Regions from separate parts of the Homo sapiens genome. Here region 1 is linked to region 2. A link means that fine-mapping ties the variant in region 2 to the expression of a gene that starts in the linked region. Tissue or cell type: breast. Region 2 holds a variant in brackets; the other region holds the start of a gene. All regions are shown on one strand. Distances are from middle to middle.

Region 1 (2,754 bases), 25 kb after region 2:
TCCAGCACAGGACAGAGTGGGCACGCAGACACGCAGGCACGCTGACAATGCGCATCCCGGCTCTCCTCCCTTCCAAGAAAAGGAGCTCAGGGGTAAGAACAAGGGATTACAATCCGACTCGGAGACCCTGGCGGTGGCCTGGACCGGCCAAGCGTGGTGAACTCCAGGGAACATGGGCACACAGTGTAGGGGCTGGGATGAGTGGATGAGGGAAATCCGACTCCTCTCAGATATCCACAGGCAGGACAAGGTGGCCAAGGCCGAGCTGATGGACAGCATGGCGGGAGGCCTGGGGCAGAGGCAGGGAGGGCCGCTTTGGGGTGCTCACTGGTGCTCCAGGAGGGCTTTATCCTGCATCTTCACTCCATCCAGGCCCAGCTTACCTACAACCCGGGGGAGTGGGGGTAGGAGGGTGTTAGATGTGTAGCTTGAAAACGACAATAAAAAGGACTGCTGGGATCGGGTGCCTTTTCTTTCAGTCCCAGCCCACGGGCTTCACAAAACGCCACAGCACTGACTCTGAAATCTGGACTTCAAATTGGCTGAAAAAGAAAAGCCAGCTTTCCTCCCTCGCCCCCCGAAAGTCCTACTTTTTAAACATCAAGATAACTCTCATGGCAGGCCTGGAAATAAGCCACAGGCACGTGGATTTGGGAACCGGTGGGCGGGAGGGGTCAGAAGTGGGTGAGGAGCAAAATTCCAAGCCCTGGTCCCGAGGCCTGGGAGCCAGCAGCTGCGGAGCACGCCCTGGGCTGGGAGAGGCCGAGGGGAGGGGAGAGCAAAACACCTCCAAACAAACTCCTTCGGGCTCGCCCCTCGCCACACTTTCTGGGGGAGGGCGGCGAGTTTGCGGGGCTGCGGCTTAGCATGGCGGGACCTGCATTTCCTGCGGGCCGCGGGTTCTGCGCTTCCTGGGGGCAGCCTGGGCTGGAGGCCGCGGCCCCGCTCCCTGGCTCGGCGGGGAACGGCAGCGGCAGCCGGAGCCCCGGGGGTGGGGAGGGGGCCGCGAGGGCCCCGGTGCGTACCTGCCTCGCCTCCACCGCCTGCTCCTCCGCCTCCGCTGGCGCCGCCGCGGGATCCCCTGGCCCTTCGGGCTCCCCCGGTCCCGCAGGCTCCCCGAGCTCCCCCAGCCCCGCGGGCTCTCCAGGCTCCTCCGGCCCCGCGGGCGAGGCCGCCGGCTCGGGGGCGCAGGGGCGGGACGGCGCCGGGGCCCCGGTGGCCTCGGCCGGGGGCGCGGGTTCCGGGGGCGCGCGGGCAGGCTCCGGGCTCGCGGCCGCCCCACGCCGCACCAGTAGCCAGGCGAGCAGAAGGGCCAGCGCGGTGGCCAGCGCAGGCAGCGCGGCCAGTAGCTCGGCCGGCGCCTCCATCGCGCCGCGGCCGCCGAGTGCGGGCCAGCTGGGACCCCGAGGGAGCCCGCCGCGCCCCGTCGCCGCGCCCGGTCGCCGCGCCCCGCCTCGGGGCGGAGCCCCCATCGCCGCGCCCCGCCCCCGCCCCCTCCGGCCCCGGGAGGGTGACGCACAGGCTGCGGGCGGGGGTGTTGAGGGGGCAGAGCCCTGACCACCTGGGAGGCACAGGAGGGCCAACCCCTGCCCGGCCTGGGCAGCCTTGACGCTTTGGGGCACAATTTAGCTCAGGTTCAATTTGAAATACTGTATGAGGTGCCCTTAGGTTGTCATCTTTGGCCTTAGTACGGCGGTTCGTCTTAGAGCATTTTGGAAATGTGGGAATGCAGAGAGACAAGCAAACCCGGGAAGCTTCATGGAAACGGCAGCCTGGATTGGCTTGTAAAGCAATCATAATGCCGGATTACGTTCAGCCACTGCCGTTTTTATAGGCATGTCAGGAGTTGCTTTTAATCCTCAGGGTTGCCTTAATGCACTTTCACAGAGGACATCTCCAGATCCCGGCCAGTGAATGCTCCCTTCGGAGCTGAGGCCAGCAGCCTTCAACACAGGCCTCCCTGTTAACAGTAACATGGCTCCCCCGCCCCTAGACCTGAAATTCAGCTGCAGGTCCTTGGTCAACGCTATTCCTCTTACCAGACTTTCTTCTTTGCACAATTCCAGAATGCATGCAGGGTGGGAGGGTACAATGAAGGAAATGAAGGCTATTGTTTTTGTTTCTCCAGATCCTCCCAGGCCTCTGTTGCTGAACAGTGGATTTTGAGATAAACACGTTGTAACCAAAAACATACTTTCCTACCACTCCCCACCCACTCTTTAGTTATTTTAAATAAACACAGGACGGGCATGTCAGGTATCACGCCAAACATAAGGCCTAATGTTAAAAAAAACACGGTTCCAGTTTTTGCTGAGGATGCCTTTAATACTTTTTTGGGAATATTACAGTGCCTGAGCTGATCTGTGATATAAACCAGATATTAGATGGAGTGCTTCTTTTTAAATGAAGATACACAAACGAGACCCCTCAGCAACAGGGAGAGCTGAATTCTGCTGCACTGCACGATATTAAGCGGGCCATGCACTTCCTTTTAGTGGTGGTTGATGAAAAGAGCCTATAAACTATAAAATGTGAAATAGGCTTTATCTACGGGCGACTAGCTTTTAACCACTGTGGAAGTTTCAGCCAGTGTATGGGCCTATTTTTTTTCTTTTGAGATGGAGTCTTATTCTGTTGCCCAGGCTGGAGTGCAGTGGCGCAATCGCGGCTCACTGCAACCTCCACCTCCCGGGTTCAAGCGAAACTCCCACCTCAGCCTCCTGAGTAGCTGGGATTACAGGCGCCCACCACCAT
Region 2 (2,754 bases):
AACCACCCCTCCTGCTCGGACCCTAGACCGCTGGTTTCTGCTGACAAGTAGGGGGTGATTCCCACAAGCTGCTCTGGGTCGCCAGGCTTGGAAAATGGCACAGCTACCACCTAGACTTCTGCTTTAACCAAAGGACTCCAGGCCACGCTGCAGAAGGGCAGCAGTGTGGGTGAGCACCAGGAGCCTGCTGCGCCTGGTGCAAAGGACTGTCCCTCTGCTGAGACCTCCCCAGCTGTCCCACTGTGCCCAGCGCACCCCTTCCCCGCCCAGCAGGATGGTGTGGAGGGAAAAGGTGGCGGGGTGCCCAGTGGCTGTGCAGGGGGTGTCCAAATGGGAAGGGGGAGCCAATTCCAACAACGAGAAGCCATAGCTGCACTGCCCGGAGCTACAAGGCGCTGCTGCAGGCGCCGGCCTGGGAGGCCGCTGAAGGATGAGCACCAAGAATCCGCTGTGTCCCGAAGGAGAAATGGAGAAATCAGCTCTGTTGGGGACTGTGTGTGTGAGTGACAGCCAGGTCTGCTCCAGGCTCTTTCCTGGCATCTCATTTCTTTAGATGGGGGCAGTGGGGTGTGGAGGGGGTGGGGGGGTGCAGTAAATGGGCTCTGTATCCCCCATCACCAGTGGCCTCCTTCTGGTCAGTGCCAGGGAGGGGTGCCAGGGGTGTGCGAGCCTGGCTGACCAGGGCAGGAAAGAACTCCTAAACTGGGAAGGTGGGGCGGTGGTTGGGCAGAGCGTGTAGGAGCCCCACCTCCTTTCTGGGCCCTTCTGCCAAGGGGCAGGAACATGAAGGGCTCAGAGGGGCACCCCCCTCCCCCAAGAGCCCGCCAGGCGCCAGCGAAGGGGCTGCAGCCTACCTCTGCTCCTCCTCCAGCTCCTCTTTGGTCATCATCTTCTTGTACTGGTTTCCCCTCAGCTTCCCGGGGCTGTATTTGAAGGAGAAGCCTTCTCCTGTGGAGGGGGGACCCAGTAAGTGCCAGGAGTGCTGTAGAGGCTGGCCCCACAAACCCCGGCCCCCTTTCCCTAGGTTTAAAAAGAAACACCTCAAGCAGAGGCCACATCTGGCTATCAGAGACATCTCACCCCAGCGCCTATACCCCCTCTCGTTCCATAGCTTTCCCTTAAATCCTACAACGAG[A/G]CAGCCAGAGAGAAAGCAGTCCTACTCCTAGTCCACAGCTGTCTCCAGATGCCACATCCCTCCCAACATCTGCAGTGCTCTGCCTTGCCCTGGCCCTGCCCAGCAGGTCCTCTCGGCTACTGAGCTCAGAGGCGACAACTCCGGCAAGCAGAGCACAGCTCATCTTGGGACACACACCACGCCTGCCTGGGCTTGGGGAGGCTTGTGTCATCCCCCCACCCCCTGTGGCTATTGGAAATCTGAAAACACGCATCCAGGCAGCCCACAGTGGCCAGGCCAGGGATGCGGGATTTGCTGCAGCAGGTTTGACGTGTGTACCGCTGAAGAGGCAGAGCCCGATTTGCCAGTCCCCGAGGGGAGACCCCCCATTGCTGCCTGCAAAAAACGGACAGATCTCGAGGCCTGAAGAGGGCACATGGATGGGTAGGTGGTGGGCACAGAGGAAGCCAGGACCTGTGGCCTGGAGTGGACACAGGCTCCGGGCACATGAGCCACGGTGAGGAGAGAAAAGCTGAGCTTCCAGAGGGAAAAGCCCCATGGGGGAGCAACCTCTTGGTTCCTGAATCCAGCAGGTGTCGGGCAGAGCTGGCTGGCCTCTTATCGACCTCCACTAACTAAAGGACCCAGTGAGGGAGGCATAGAGAGATCCTCAGCTGCTATTCTGGAAGTGCTGCCCTCTCTGTCCCTCCATATCCTGTCCAGCAGCCCGAAAAGCCAGGCCCCTCCCCTCTAGCTTGCAGCCTTCATGCTACCGGATAGGCTGATGTGGACCGATGGGGAGGCGGGGGGGCTCTCAGGGTGAAAGGAAGAAGGTTCTAGATGCGAATTCAGAACCCAAACATCTGGTTGGGTGTGGTGGCTCATGCCTGTAATCCCAGCACCTTGGGAGGCCAAGGCAGGTGGATCACTTGAGGCCAGGAGTTCGAGACCAACCTGGCCAATGTGGCAAAACCCCGTCTCTACTAAAAATACAAAAAATTAGCCGGGCGTGGTGGCAGGCGCCTGTAATCCCAGCTACTCAGGAGGCTGAGGCAGGAGAATCGCTTGAACCCGGGAGGCAGAGGTTGCAGTGAGCCGAGATCGCGCCACTGTACTCCAGCCTGGGCAATAGAGTAAGATTCCAGTATCCCCCTACCCCCCAAAAAAAGAAAACATACAAAATCCTGCCTTGGTCCCAGTCTTAGGTTTCAATTTATGGGGCAAGTCTGATTAGTTTTGTTTTCTGAGCCAGACAGAACAAACGACTTGAAAAGGATTTCGCTCAGTCACATGCAGTGCACCAGGCAGCGCATCCAGTTTTGCTAGACCAGAATTCAACGTGACAGCCTCCGAGGGACGGGGGAGGTTTCTTCCTCCAGTCTCCTGTGAATTCACCTAGTCGCTCAGGGAAGTCATTTTAGCGACACTAATAATTAACCTCTGAGGCTGCCTCGTACTGCAGAGGGGCTGGAGGTGCTCACACATTCTTCCAACAGCTGGAGCCATAAACCTTTCCTTTCCCTGCCTTGCTAGAGATGGCAGGAGGCTAAGATGGCAGGAGGCGCTGGGGGTGGGGGATGTTCAGGAGCAGCGGTGCAGATAAGGGGGGAGGCTGGTGACAGTGCTGGGGGACTGTGCCC

The links. PIP is the estimated chance that this variant, and not a neighbour inherited with it, causes the effect.
Region 1: MXRA7 starts here. The variant in region 2 is fine-mapped to the expression of MXRA7 in breast (GTEx, PIP above 0.99). The same link has a PIP of 0.9 or more in whole blood.

What each region holds. Positions count from the first base shown.
Region 1 is chr17:76,709,580-76,712,333 of GRCh38, forward strand. MXRA7 (matrix remodeling associated 7) reads right to left here and starts at 1,386. Exons shown (of 4, transcript NM_198530.4): 1 at 1,026-1,386. The coding sequence starts at 1,367. RefSeq lists a silencer at 1,408-1,617.
Region 2 is chr17:76,684,218-76,686,971 of GRCh38, forward strand. MXRA7 (matrix remodeling associated 7) reads right to left here. Exons shown (of 4, transcript NM_198530.4): 3 at 855-948. Among named protein-coding and RNA genes, the nearest start is that of MXRA7, 25 kb to the right of the region's middle. RefSeq lists enhancers at 1-396, 2,379-2,754. The variant A/G (reference allele first, on the strand shown) is at 1,136.